2 linked regions of the Homo sapiens genome follow. The protein of the gene in region 1 binds, or shares a complex with, the protein of each later gene. Each region holds a gene or a part of one and is shown on either strand. Other genes may lie near its edges. A codon is read from its position in the direction of its gene.

Region 1 (7,019 bases):
TTTTGAGACTCGCTCTGTTGCCCAGGCTAGAGTGCAGTTGCGCGATCCCAGCTCACTGCAACCTCCGCCTCCAAGGTTCAACTGGGATTGTGCTAAGATTACAGGCGTGAGCCACCACGCCTGGCCCTAATCTCTTTTCTAATACTTCCTTTACATTAAGGAGAAAGTGTCAGTTTGGTGCTAGCCTACTATTTCTCTAAAAATTGCTAGTATCTTTTTTTTTTTTTGGAGACAGAGTCTCACTCTGTCGCCAGGCTGGAGTGCAGTGGCATGATCTCGATTCACTGCAACCTCCACCTCCTAGATTAAAGCAATTCTCCTGCCTCAGCCTCCTGAGTAGCTGGGACTACAGGTGCGCACCACCACACCCAGCTAATTTTTTTTGTACTTTTAGTAGAGACGGGGTTTCACCATGTTGGCCAGGATGGTCTCAATCTCTTGACCTCGTGATCCGTCTGCCTCGGTCTCCCAAAGTGCTGGGATTATAGGCATGAGCTGTCGCACTCGGCCTTTTTTTTTTTCCAGAAGGAAGGAATAGGTCCTGAAGTTTCACAAGTATCAGAATCTGGTTAATAACATTGTTTAGTTTTCATTGTACTTTACTTTTACAGTTTTATTTTCCTACAGCAAGTGATACAAGTTTTCCACTCATAGCAATAATATAATTATAAAATAAATTTAATTTTAAAAGTCACCTTGGAGAAAAATATTAACTGATAGCACAGATAATACTATAATGCAGCTAAAATAATGAGATTAGGTAAAAGAACGATAGAAATTTGGGAAGAACTGGGATAAATCATTGGCAAGACACTATCAAAATTTGTTGAATGAACGCACAAGCTGCACTCCTGAGGTAACACTTCCCAAAGAAGCTACTAGTCCTTGGAGATGCAGGCAGCAGCAGGCCTGGACACATGCAGGCCTGCTGTCCACATGCCCTGGAGAAGAGGTCCTGGGATTTGTTCATCCAATCTTACTGAGGGATGGATACTGACAGTAGGAAAAGTATCAATTTTGCAAATAAAAAGGAAAGTTTTTCATCTGCATGTTCTTGCAGCTGCCATGAATGGTCTCCTTAGCAGCTGAAATAGTATGCTCAGTTTCCACTTCCTACAAGAATTTCAGAGACTATTAAAGATATTGCCACAACTTATAAAAACGCTAAATAGAAGAGAGCTCCATCTTTAAACACAATATCCTTTACTTAAAAATTCTAAAAGTTGGAGAATAGGAGCCTTGCTTTTACCATGAATACAAATTACAGAAGACACATTCCTTCACTCAGCAAGCCTTTGTTAAATACCTACCATGTGCAAGATTGCAAGGGACAAGGATGAACCTAAAAATGAATAATGCCTCCTAACTGACCGACCCATTCTACATTTGCCTCCTATTTATTTATGACAGAGTCTTGCTCTGTCACCAGGCTGGAGTGCAGTGGCACGATCTCGGCTCACTGCAACCTCTGCCTCCCAGGTTCAAGTGATTCTCCTGCCTCAGCCTCCTGAGCAGCTGGGACTACAGGCTCGTACCACCAGGCCTGGCTAATTTTTTTGTATTTTAGTAGAGACAGGGTTTCACCATGTTGGCCAGGATGGTCTCGATCTCCTGACCTCGTGATCCTCCTGCCTCAGCCTCCCAAAGTGCTGGGATTACAGGCGTGAGCCACCACACCTGGCCTTGCTTCCCTTTTAGTTTAAAGGTTTATTTCCCACACAGTATTCAGAGCTATCTTTTTTACATGCACACCTTATCACTCTACTCCTCTGGTTAAATCCTTTTAATGTCATCCACTGTCCTTTTCTTTCTTTTCACAGGTATTGATTCCATTGTCTTTTTTTTTTTTTTTTTTTTTTTGAGATGGAGTCTTGCTCTGTTGCCCAGGCTGGAGTGCAGTGGCTCGATCTTGGCTCGCTGCATGCTCCGCCTCCCGGGCTCACGCCATTCTCCTACCTCAGCCTCCGGAGTAGCTGGGACTACAGGCGCCCGCCATCACGCCCGGAGAATTTTTTGTATTTTTAGTGGAGACGGGGTTTCACCGTGTTACCAGGATAGTCTCGATCTCCTGACCTCGTCATCCACCTGCCTTGGCCTCCCAAAGTGCTGGGATTACAGGCGTGAGCCACCACACCCGGCCTGATTCCACTGTCTTTAAAACAAATTTCAATATCCTTAAAATGGATTACAAAGCTGAGTCGCTGCCCACCCCAGCCTCATCTCACTTCCTCACTCATTTCTTCATTCCAACTGCACAAGCCTTTGCTTACATCCTCAAGTGGACCAAGCTCCTTTTCTCAGGGTCTTCACCACCCTCTCCCCATCTCTTTGCCTAACCCTGGTTCTCTTTTCATGTCCAAAGTAAAACATCATTTCCACAGGAAACCTTTTCTTGACCTGACCCCAACAGTCCAAATGCCCCTATTGTATGCTCTCATGGCAAACTGTCCTATTCCTTCAAATCCCTTAACATAACTGTAATGGTGATGTGTACTGTCATTTCAAGGAGATAAGCTCCTTGAAAGCAGAAACTATGTCTGTGCTGTTTAGTACTCATTTCCTGCATCTATATTGTGCCTAACACATATCAGGCCCTCAATAAATGTTGAATGAAGGAATGCATAAATGAACAAATTGTATGGGGGAAAAAAGGGCAGTCTGCTAGAAAAATGAAAGATATATATATAAGATAATACAGGCCGGGTGCGGTGGCTCATGCCTGTAATCCCAACAGTTTGGGAGGCCGAGGAAGGTGGATTGCTTGAGGTCAGGAGTTCAAGACCTGCCTGACCAACATGGTGAAATCCCATCTCTACTAACAATACAAAAATTAGCCAGGTGTGGTGGCAGGTGCTTGTAATCCCAGCTACTTGGGAGGCTGAGGCAGGAGAATCACTTGAATCCAGGAGGCGGAGGTTGCAGCGAGTGGAGATCACGCCATTGCACTCCAGCCCAGGTGACAGAGTGAGACTGCATCTTAAAAAATCTATCAAAAAAAAAAGATAATACAAAGTGATCACAACAGGAAGTTCAAAGAACCAGTGATTAGTGATGGCTACCAGCTATTAAATTTTTTCCAAATCTTTTCAACTTTTTTTTTTTTTTTTGAGACAGAGTCTAGCTTTGTCACCCAGGCTGCAGTACAGTGGTGCAATCCCGGCTCACTGCATCCTCCACCTCCTGGGTTCAAGCTATTCTCCTGCCTCAGCCTCCCGAGTAGCTAGGATTACAGGCGTGCATCACCATGCCCAGCTAATTTTTTTGTATTTTTAGTAGAGATGGGTTTTCACCACGTTGGCCAGGCTGGTCTGAAACTCCTGGACTCAAGTGATCCACCCAGGAGGCGGAGGTTGCAGCAAGCTGAGATCGCACCATTGCACTCCAGCCTGGGCGACAAGAGTGAAACTCCATCTCAAAAAAATAAAATAAAATAAAAATTTAAAAAACTAGCCAGGCATGGTGGCATGTGCCTGCAGTGCCAGCTACTCCAGAGGCTGAGGCGGGAGGATCACTTGAGCTCAGGAGGTCGAAGCTGCAGTGAGCCATGTTCACATCACTGCACTGCAGCCTGGACAACACAGCAAGACCTTGTCTCCAAAAACAGAAAAAAAAAAAGAAATGTACTAATCTCTTCATCTTGCCCTATGTTTCAACAACTACCCTCTAATCTATGTATTCATCTAAGAATATTTTTGTGCACTAAAACCTTCATTTTCAGTTTAAAAGTCTAGGTCAGGGTTTTTTGTTGTTGTTGTTTGTTTGAATTATTCAGCTAAGACAGCAGAATAGTTTTTTGTTTATTTGTTTTGACATAGAATCTTGCTCTGTTGCCCAGGCTGGAGTACAGTGGCACAATCTCAGCTCACTGCAGCTTGAAGTTCCTGGGTTCAAGCATGCACCATCACACTAGCTGCCCCCCCGCCCCCCGCAATGGAGTCTCGCACTGGAGCCCAGGCTGGAGTGCAATAGCGCGATCTCGGCTCACTGCAACCTCCGCCTCCTGGGTTCACGCGATTCTCTTGCCTCAGCCTTCTGAATAGCTGGGATTACAGATGCACACTACCACACCCGGCTAATTTTTCGTATATTTTTAGTAGAGACGGAGTTTCACTATGTCGGTGAGACTCGTCTCAAACTCTTGACCTCATGATCCGCCGGCCTCGGCTTCCCAAAGTGTTAGGATTACAGGCGTGAGCCACTGCACTCAGCCCTATTTTTTATTTTTTTGAGATGAAGTCTCGCTCTGTCCCCCAGGCTGGAGTACAGTAGCACAATCTCAGCTCACTGCAGCCTCCGCCTCCCGGGTTCAAGTGATTCTTCTGCCTCAGCCTCCTGAGTAGCTGGGGTTACAGGCGCCTGCCACCACACCTGGCTAATTTTTGTATTTTTAGTAGAGATGGGGTTTTGCCATTTTGGCCAGGCTAGTCTCGAACTCCTGGCCTCAAGCAACCCACCCACCTCGGCCTCCCAAAGTGCTGGGATTACAAGCATGAGCCACCTCACCCAGCCAAACCACTGTGCCCAGCTTTGTATGCTTGTTAACACTTGGCCAAAACTGAACACAAAAATAGTCCAGAATGTCACAGGTCCAGGGCAAAAGACCAACAGGGACTGTTTTGGTTATGAGCAAGGTTTTGGTATGGCAGAGGTGGTCTCAGCCATCCAATGGTGATGGAAGTTCTAGATTCATTGAGAGAAGTTCTAGTAAGTCAGGGCTTTTTAAATGGTCATATTTTCAGAATGGAAAAAAATAGGTTGTGCCAAGTGACTTTTCTACAGAAACGCAAGATAGTCTTCACTCACCAAGGTACCCTGTCACTTCTGAGGCAAAATAGGACCAGACTCACAAAGCTACCACACTGTCCAAGAGGAGGTCAGAATAAATACCACTTTTGATTGAGGACCTGCAAGTTTTCATTTATGAACTAGAGCAGTGGTCCCCAACCTTTTTGGCACTAGGGACCGATTTCATGAAAGACAATTTTTCCACAGATGGCAGGGAGGGATGGTTTCGGGATAAAACTATTCCACCTCAGATATCAGGCATTAGTTAGAGTCTCATAAGGAGCGCCAACCTCGATTCCTCACATGCATAGTTCACAACAGGGTTTGTGTTCCTACTCCTAAGAGCTGATCTGACAGGAGGCGGGGCTCAGGCAGTAATGCTCTCCCCCACAACACCCTGCTGCTCACCTCCTACTGTGCGGCCCATTTCCTAACAGGCCACAGACCAGTATCACACACCATCCTGGGGTCAGGAACTCCTAAACTATGAACTATAGTGGAATAATTACCTGAGCCAGGCACCCAAGAGAAATGTCCTAACTCAGCAAAGAAGTGACTGTCACCCGGGAGACACACTGGAAAATATCTTACACCTGATCCAGGCTAATCCAAGACTGCAGGTCAGTACGACATATTAAAACAAGGGATCTCATGCCTGTGTATGTGTGTATATTCTAAAGACTATGCACACATTTTTTCTACTTTGAACTTTCTCTATTTCTATTATGCAATTTGCTGACCTAGCAATTCCCATATTCTATACAAATTTATTAAGTGCCATACCTGACCATCAATTCCACTTCCAATTATCTAAAAATATGAGCGTGAAATTAAAAACAAAAAAGAAAAAAAAGAAAGAAAAATAAATAAATAAAAGTATGGGGTAGAGGAGGCTGCATAACAAAACAGAGTCAAATATTTATTATCTCCCTCCATCCCTTCCCTTCCCTAATCCATAACCACTGAAAATGTTTTAAAATTAAGAATAATGGGGCCAGGTGCAGTGGCTCACGCCTGTAATCCCAGCACTTTGGGAGGCTGAGGCAAGTGGACCACATGATCAGAAGTTCAAGACCAACCTGGCCAATGTGGTGAAATCCTGTCTCTACTAAAAATACAAAAAATTAACCTGGCGTGGTGGCGGGCGCCTGTATTCCCAGCTGCTCTGGAGGCTGAGGCAGGAGAATGGCGTGAACCCGGAAGGTGGAGCTTGCAGTGAGCGGAGATCACGCCACTGCACCCCAGCCTGCAGGACAGAGTGAGACTCCATCTCAAAAAAAAAAACAAAACAAAAACAAAAACAAAAATTAGCCGGGCATGGTGGTGCATGCCTGTAACCCAGCTACTCAGGAGGCTGAGGCAGAGAACTGTTTGAACCCAGGAGGCAGAGGTTGCAGTGAGCCAAGATCGCGCCACTGCATTCCAGCCTGGGTGACAGAGCAAGACTCCTTCTTAAAAAAATAATAATAATAATGGGCAGGGCGCAGTGGCTCACGCCTGTAACCCCAGCACTTTGGGAGGCCAAGGCAGGCAGATTGCTTGAGCTCAGGAGTTCGAGACCAGCCTGAACAACATGGTGAAATGCTGTCTCTACAAAAAATACAAAAATTAGCCAGGCGTGGTGGTGCCCGCCTGCAGTCCCAGTACTCAGGAGGCTGAGGTGGATGGATGACTTGAGCCTGGGAAGTGGAGGTTACAGTGAGCCAAGACACTCCAGCCTGGGTGACAGAGCCAGATCCTGTCTCAAAAAAATAACGAAAGAAGGCACTGGGGCTTACCAAGTCACACAAGAGTACAAAATCTGCTGGGAACTACGTAGCAAAAGAGAATAATTTTAGCAAAAGGAGACCAAATAATCAAGTATGGGTTCCAGTAAGGTCATGGGTGGAGGTTTTCAAAAACGAAAAATGCAATACCCAAACTTATTAGTAATGTGAGATGCACTGGGAAGATGTTTCAAATCTATGCACACAGAAAAGCTATTCCAACCCTAGACACCACCAGTAAAATTTCAACCCACCACAATTTATCACCACATAGCCCTGTCCACATATACCCTCAATGAATTCCAGCAAGAGCTGAGGCCCCAAGCAAGGTTTCCAACACAATTGTAAAATAAATCCTGAAACCTTGGCAGTACAAATACTGTTGTACAAAGACAGTGATGCTACTGAATCTGAACTTGGTGAAGAGCTGAGCTCTCAGTGAGAATGTCTATGTTCAAATCCCAGCTC
Region 2 (7,140 bases), on another chromosome or scaffold:
ACTTCCCCAGGTCTTTCTTCAAGGGCAGTCTCCCTGAACCCCCAAACTAAAGCTGAATCCCCACTCACTTCCAGCTTTCCTTCCCTGCTTCTATTTTCCTTTGTAACTGAACACTAAGTTCCACATGACTCCCCGCACTGTGATTCCCAAGGTGTGGGCCAGGATTTGAGGGGGTCCCCAAAATTGTTTCAGGTGTTCTATGAAGTCACAGCTACTTTATGATACATTAAGGTGTTTAGAGGGGAAAATCTACATTCTATAAAGACACCTTTTTGTTTATGTCTTGTTCACTGCTGTGTCTCTAGAACTGGCACACAGTAGGCACTCAAATATTTTTCCAAGAATAAAATATGTGTTAAATTAATTGCAGTGTTCTACATCCATGGATTATTTCAATTCCAACTGCATCATCTAATCTGAGTCATTCTCAGAGTTTTCTACCAAAATGCCCTAATCAAAGAGGCAAGTAAATACAAAAAAATGGGAACCAGGTGTGGTGGCTCACACTTGTAATTCCAGCACTTTGGAAGGATTAGGTGGGAGAATCACTTGAGCCTGGGAGTTCCAGACCAGCCCGGGTAACAAAACAAGACCCTGTCTCCACAAAAAAATTTAAAAATTAGTGGGGTGTGGCAGCACGTGCCTGTAGTCCCAACTACTCGGGAGGCTGAGGCAGGAGGATTGCCTGGGCCTGGGAGCTTGAGACTAAAGCGACCTAGGATTGTGCCACTGCACTCCTGTCTGGGCAACAGAGCGAGACCCTGTCTCAAAAAATAAAAGAAAATGGGGAATAAGTGGAGTTCCCCTACTGGCACCTTCTGAAGAGGCCACATGATTCTCTGAAATCTAATATTTTCTTGCAAGTGTTCCTGTGTATTTTCTTTCTATTCATTTCCATGTAAAACTGTTGTCCTTTCCTAGATCTTCAGTTAAAACTGATTCTCCATGAGGCTCTGCCTTTTCTTGAAGCTTCAAGGCACCCTGTCACCTCCCATGCTGCACCTCCCAAACTGAAGCCTCTGTCAAGTCATCGTCTCTGGGCCACTGCCAAGGCCTCCTGAATGGCTTACCTGCCCAGTTTACCTGCTGTCATCACATGACAGCCCACAGAGCTCAGTGGTTAAGAATTTGAATCCATCACCTGGATTCTACAGTGAACACTTTGCTACACTGGCTTCATCATTTCTCTCTGCCCACCTATCAATCCTAGATCCACTTTTAAAAACAACAGGGCAGTAAGTGAAAACGAAAAACCAAGTGGTTCCGATTCAAGGGTCAGGAGGATAGAAAGGACTATGGGATGAGATGGCTGGGAACACTTTAAAGAGAGGGTGAGCCTCTCCAGAGGCTCCAGGTGGGTTAAGACCCACTCCAGAGCAGTGGATCGCAAACGGAATGTGCGTTTCTAACATGGTCCCCTGACCACAGGCACCAAGTCTTTCAGAACCACTGCTCCAGAGCCAATATCCTTGGATGAAGTTCCTCGCTTTACTCATTCTCACCTGGGCCAATTCACTTGTGCTTGCCATGCCTTGGTTTACTCATACACAAAATGGGGGTGACAGCACCTCAAAGAATCGTGAGGATTAACTGGATTATTACGTGGGCACTCAGAACAATGCAGGGAACAGTGAGTTCAACACAAGTCACCGTAGCTACCAGACTGGCCCAACAGAAAATTCTTTCCACAGGATCAAGTCTAAACCCCTCCTGTTTCACCCATTTCTTCCTGACTGCTCAGTGGCAGAAACCAGCCACTAGATTCGCACTGATCCCAGTTGTCTGACCGCACTTCAAGTTTCCCCATTTTCATGCCCCGCTCCTTCTCCGGAACTTCCGTCTTCCTCACTTACCAATGTGTTATCCATCTTCAAGGCTCACCCCCTCTTTGAAATGTTCCCAGCCATCTTATCCCATAGTTCTTTCCATCTTCCTGACACTTGAATCGGAACCACTTTGTCCTTAGTTTTCACATACCGCCCTGTTGTTTTTTTAAAGTGGATCCAGGACTGATAGATGGGAAGGAAGGAGAGATACCAGCGTAGCAAAATGTTAACTGCAGAATCCAGGAAAAGTGTCTATAAAAGCACATGGTGAAATTCCTCCAACTTTTCTAAATGTGTGGGAATCTTCATAATAAAATGTTTTCTTAAAAAAAAAAAATTGGTACCTGCAAATCAGAGGTCTGGCCTTAACTCGAATCCAAAGAAACTGCATCCAGGGCTCTGGGCACAGCGAGCCTCCCCTAAGATCTGCCGTGACTCCTCACAGAGGAAAGGTGTGTACACCGGGGTGCGCAGCTACAGTAACTAAACTTGCAAACACTAACCATGACTGAGACAGCATCTGCTGCAGGGGACGCAGTGATCAGTGTCATTTCATTTGGATACAATTTAACCACGGCCACCAGGTGGGCTTCACGATGTACACATCCCAACAGCTGCTGACCAGCTTCCGATCCTCGCAAGCCCCCTCTGCGGCCTGGCCGTCGGCGGTGCCCTCTGCCCAGAAGAGGCGCGGCCCGGCCACGAACCAGCAAGCAGTAGGGCAGGGCGAGAAGCCCAGGTCGTGGGCTCCAGGCCGCGTCTCCAGCTCGCCCCATCACCCCAGCGCCTCCTGACAGCGACCACGAGCGGAGGCCCGAGCGCTGCCCCAGAACCTGCCAGCTCGCAGGGTCCAGAGACAAAGTTTGAGCACCTCGGCCAAGGTCGCCAAGGCCGGCGTGCGTCGACTCCAGGCCCACCTCTCCCTGGACCCTGTGGCCCCAGGGAGGCGCCCACGTTGGCCGGCGGGGGGTGGTTCTCGCGGGTCCCCGTCCGGGCTTGGGGTCCGGCCGGGAAGGCGCGGCTGGGGCCGGAGCTGGCGGGGCCGGGAAGCGAGGCCCGGCCAAGAGCGGCTGGCCCTAGGCGCGTGTCACTCACATGTTGTTGAAGCGGAACAGGTCGTCGCAGGTAAAGGCCCGTAGCGTGGTCATCGCGCCGCCGCCGCTTCCGAAGACCGTTCGCCAAGACCCCGCGCCCGCCCTGCCGGAAGTCTCCCGGAGCGTGGCCGCCGCGGAACCGAGCGAGACGGGGTACTGCTTCCGGGCTACGAGTTGCTGGGCAACGACAGCAGCAAAGCAGCTTCCTCTGGCGGCCGGCGGCGGGAATTGCCAGGTCGCTCCTGTAAGGCCTCCGGGGCTGTGGCTGCCCAGAACCTCGGAACCCCTCCCAGGCAGCGGCTGCAGAAAGCAGGCGGCGACACCTGGGAAGGAAAGAAGCTGCTGGTGATGCGGAAACCCAAGCAGAAGAGCGGAGTTCGCAGCCACCCGGTGCTGCAGAGTAAATGAGGAATGGGAGAATTTATGACCCAGAATCCCTTGTCCCAGTGTTGCGAGTTGCAGATGTCATCTTAAAATGTCAATACCACGTTTAAAAACAAAAAGAAGGCCGGGCGCGGTGGCTCACGCCTGTAATCCCAACACTGGGAGGCCAAGGCGGGCAGATCACTTGAGTTCAGCAGTTCGAGACCAACCTGGCCAACATGGCGAAACCCCCTCTCTACTAAAAAAAAAAAAAAAAGGAAAGAAATAAAAATTAGCTGGGCGTGGTGGCACGCGCCTCTAATCCCAGCTACTTGGAGGCTGAGGCAGGAGAATCGCTTGAACCCAGGAGGCGGAGGTTGCAGTGAGCCGAGATCTCGCCACTGCACTCCAGCCTGGGCGACAGAGCTAGACTTGGTCTCAAAAATAAATAATAAATAAATAAAAGCAAAACGAAATGTAAAATTGATTTTGATAGTACGCTTTATTTTACCCATTTATTTTTCCTATTTGGGAAAAATATTTTTCCCTGACCCCACTTTATTATACCCGAAATATCATTTCAACATGTAACCAATCAATACTCAACATGTAATCAATCAATAAAAAAAGGAATGTGATATGTTACATTCTTTTTTGCAAAGACTTTGAAATCCGGTGTGTATTTTACATTTGCAGTGCATTTCAATCTGAGAGAGCAGCTGTCATCGGAAATGCTTGTTCTCTATTTAGATTTCATCAATGTATGGTTAAAAAGCAGATTCTCATATCCAAGCGGTTCCAAATATACTGTTTTCAAATCGCTGAACCAAACATCAGTTTTTAAATTTAAAGTAGTTAAAATTAAAAGTTAAAAATTCCTTTATTCAGACCAGACACAGTGGCTCACACCTGTAATCCCAGCTACTTGGGAGGCTGAGGTGGGAGGATCATTTGAGCCCGGGAGGTAGAGGTTGCTCTGAGACATGATTGCACCACTGCACTCCAGCCTGGGTGACACACCAAGACCCTGTCTCAAAAAGATAAGATAAAGAGAGATAAAATACATAAAGCAAGCAGGAATGCTGAAATGTATTTACACATGAGTGTTAAACTGGTCAATATCCACAGAGCTGTAATCACTGTCTCTCCTGGGCACTGTATAACACTATGCATTTGTATTTTATGGACAAGAAAAATTTTCATTACTATCAATTTTCCTCAGCTTACAAATTTGTAAAATTTTGTATTGTCAAAGACAATAAAAAGCAGAGAAAACCTGGAAACGTGTACTAAACAGTAATCTTTTTCTGGCCATTTCAAAGTGTTTCATAATTTTTTGTGTGTGACATGAACTAATGTTGATTTGAATTTTGTTCCTTATGAAGTAGTGAAGGTTTTTATAATATTTTTGGCTCTGATTCATTGGTATTATAAACATTAGAAGTTTATAGCTACTTTATGTTTGTATCTAGGTAATGGTGGAATAAACATGATTTTGATTTTTAGAAAAAAACACTGTGGGTTTAACACAAAGGTAGCATTGGAACCCTGCAGAAACTGGATGCTGTAGGCCAGCAGTTTGCAAGCACCGATACGAATTATTATTCCGATTTTGAGGCACAGATCAGAAATATCCTATAGCTACGTGGCCATTCCAACACATGGGGTCAGGGGAACGTGCAGGGCAGTACAGAGAATATCCTGGATATTCACCAGCTGGTTCTCCCTTCTCTCCTGTTTGTCTACTTATTTTTAAACTGTTATCAGTTTCCATTGCTGATTGCCTCCTATGAATTAGCATCTCGAAGGGTGGCCAGTAAGTGCCTAGCAAATATTGATTAAATAGCTGAGTGAAAAAGTGGCACACAGGTTACCCAGAAGATAATGTCATCCTTGGTAGTTTACAAAGAGGGTATTCACATTCTCAACAAAGGTATTTCACCTCTCTTTGCCTCAGTTTCTGTAAAAGGTGCATAATCATAGCACCTACTTCATTGGATTATTATGAAGATTACATGAGTTAATATTTGTAAAGCAGTTATAACAGTGCTTGCCACATTTTAAGTGCCATATAAGTGTTTGTTAAGAAAAATAATGAAATTAAGTATCTTGCATTTTGAAGGATCAGAATCTGGAGATGTAGAGTTAGGAGAGGCACAGCCCTCAATCATAGACCTTAGCACAAATGGCTCTGGAGGGGTGATGTTTGCTCATAGTCCCCGATGAGCAGCTTAGAGGAGATGGGTGGGGCTTTGGAAGCCGCCTCCCTTTCCTCTTATTGTCTTGCTTCAACCAGAAAAGTCTACATGTTGACACACTTGTTTTATGGGTTTTAAAAATACCTTTTAGGGCTATTTACATTCTTAAAGACTTTTTAATAAAAAGGATATATGCACATTATTAAGAAATCAAAGACTTGTGGAAATGTACAAAGAATAAAGCAACAAATCATTGAAAATTTTGCCACCTGGGAATAAACCATGTTAACTCTCAGATAATTTCAGTCATCTCTCTATGTAGATTAAGGGGAGTGAGAAAGAGACTTTTACTTAAAAGGGATTCTAATTATATATGTTAATAGATTATGAAGTATAAGGTATTACTGTACTTGACTTTTTTCTTGAATTTAACAGAAGAAAAACAAATCAAATGAAAATGAAAGAGTGCCAGGCGCGGTGAGTCACGCCTGTAATCCCAGCACTTTGGGAGGCCGAGGCAGGTGGTTCACCTGAGTTCAGGAGTTTGAGACCAGCCTGGCCAACACGGTGAAACCCCATCTCTACTAAAAATACAAAAATTAGCCGGGCGTGGTGGTGGGCACCTGTAATCTCAGCTACTCGGAAGGCTGAGGCAGAAGAATCGCTTGAACCCAGGAGGCAGAGGTTGCAGTTTGCTGAGATTGCACCACTGCACTCCAGCCTGGGCGACAGAGGGAGACTCCATGTCAATAAATAAATAAATAAATAAATAGGCTGGGCGCGGTGGCTCACACCTGTAATCCCAATGCTTTGGGAGGCCGAGGCGGGTGGATCATAAGGTCAGGAGTTTGAGACCAGCCTGGCCAACATGGTGAAATCCCATCTCTACTAAAAATACAAAAAAAATTTAGCCAGGCATGGTGGCGGGCGCCTGTAATCCCAGCTACTTGTCAGGCTGAGGCAGGAGAATCGCTTGAACCCGGGAGGCAGAGGTTGCAGTGAGCCGAGACTGTACCACTGCACTCTAGCCTGGGTGACAGAGCAAGACTCTGTCTCAAAAAATTAAAAAATAATACAAAGAATAAATAAATAAATAAATATGAAAATAAAGAGATTGCTGAGCAGCACAAAATAAAAGCTCCTAAAAGTTTCCTGTAAAGTTTAAGATATGTATAGTATTATCTTATATATGTATTAAATGTAATTTCAATCTCCTAATGAGGATAATTAATGGTCAAAATCAGATTTTTTAATAGAAATTTCAATTTAGGGCACTATTTACTCTTTTTTTGTGTTGTTTTGTTTTTTGTTTTTTTGCTTTTTTGAGACAGGGTCTCGCTCTGTCTCCCAGGCTGGAGCGCTGGCAAGATCTCAGCTCAGTGGAACCTCTGCCTCCTGGGTTCAAGGGATTCTCCTGCCTCCGCCTCCTGAGTAGCTGGAACTATAGGTGTGCACCACCACACGAGGCCTTTTTTTTTTTTTGAGACAGAGTCTTGCTCTGTCGCCCAGGCTGGAGTGCAGTGGTGTGATCCCAGCTCACTGCAACCTCCGCCTCCTGAGTTCAAGCGATTCTCTGCCTCAGCCTCCTTAGTAGCTGGGATTACAGGTGCCCGCCACTATGCCTGGCTACTTTTTTTGCATTTTTAGTAGAGACGGGGT

What was found. The genes of interacting proteins can lie anywhere in the genome.
Region 2: the proteins of NAA25 (region 1) and NAA20 are in contact, whole or in part, in a cryo-EM structure (PDB 7STX), measured with the Homo sapiens proteins. Residues at the interface, in NP_079229.2 of Homo sapiens: Ser226, Glu227, Ile228, Asn259, Asp261, Asp262, Trp263, Gln264, Arg318, Arg321, Leu325, Lys362, Pro363, Cys364, Thr367, Asp368, Val371, Leu457, Thr459, Glu460, Leu461, Ser504, Ala506, Leu510, Leu532, Asp533, Lys535, His536, Ile537, Gln538; in NP_057184.1 of Homo sapiens: Thr2 (codon at 2,971), Thr3 (codon at 2,968), Leu4 (codon at 2,965), Arg5 (codon at 2,962), Thr8 (codon at 2,953), Cys9 (codon at 2,950), Asp10 (codon at 2,947), Leu12 (codon at 2,941), Phe13 (codon at 2,938), Phe15 (codon at 2,932), Asn16 (codon at 2,929), Asn19, Leu20, Pro22, Leu23, Thr26, Tyr27, Gly28, Ile29, Pro30, Leu33, Gln34, Leu36, Ala37, His38, Pro40, Glu41, Pro49, Glu52, Met54.

Annotation. Positions count from the first base shown.
Region 1 is NC_000012.12:112,098,778-112,105,796, forward strand, and holds part of NAA25 (N-alpha-acetyltransferase 25, NatB auxiliary subunit), read right to left. Parts: intron 1-7,019. UniProt on the Homo sapiens protein: Non-catalytic subunit of the NatB complex which catalyzes acetylation of the N-terminal methionine residues of peptides beginning with Met-Asp, Met-Glu, Met-Asn and Met-Gln. May play a role in normal cell-cycle progression.
Region 2 is NC_000020.11:20,013,231-20,020,370, reverse strand, and holds the start of NAA20 (N-alpha-acetyltransferase 20), read right to left. Parts: upstream 3,010-7,140; 5' UTR 2,975-3,009; coding exon 2,922-2,974; intron 2,577-2,921; exon of another isoform or gene 2,347-2,576; coding exon of another isoform or gene 2,330-2,346; intron 1-2,329. UniProt on the Homo sapiens protein: Catalytic subunit of the NatB complex which catalyzes acetylation of the N-terminal methionine residues of peptides beginning with Met-Asp, Met-Glu, Met-Asn and Met-Gln. Proteins with cell cycle functions are overrepresented in the pool of NatB substrates.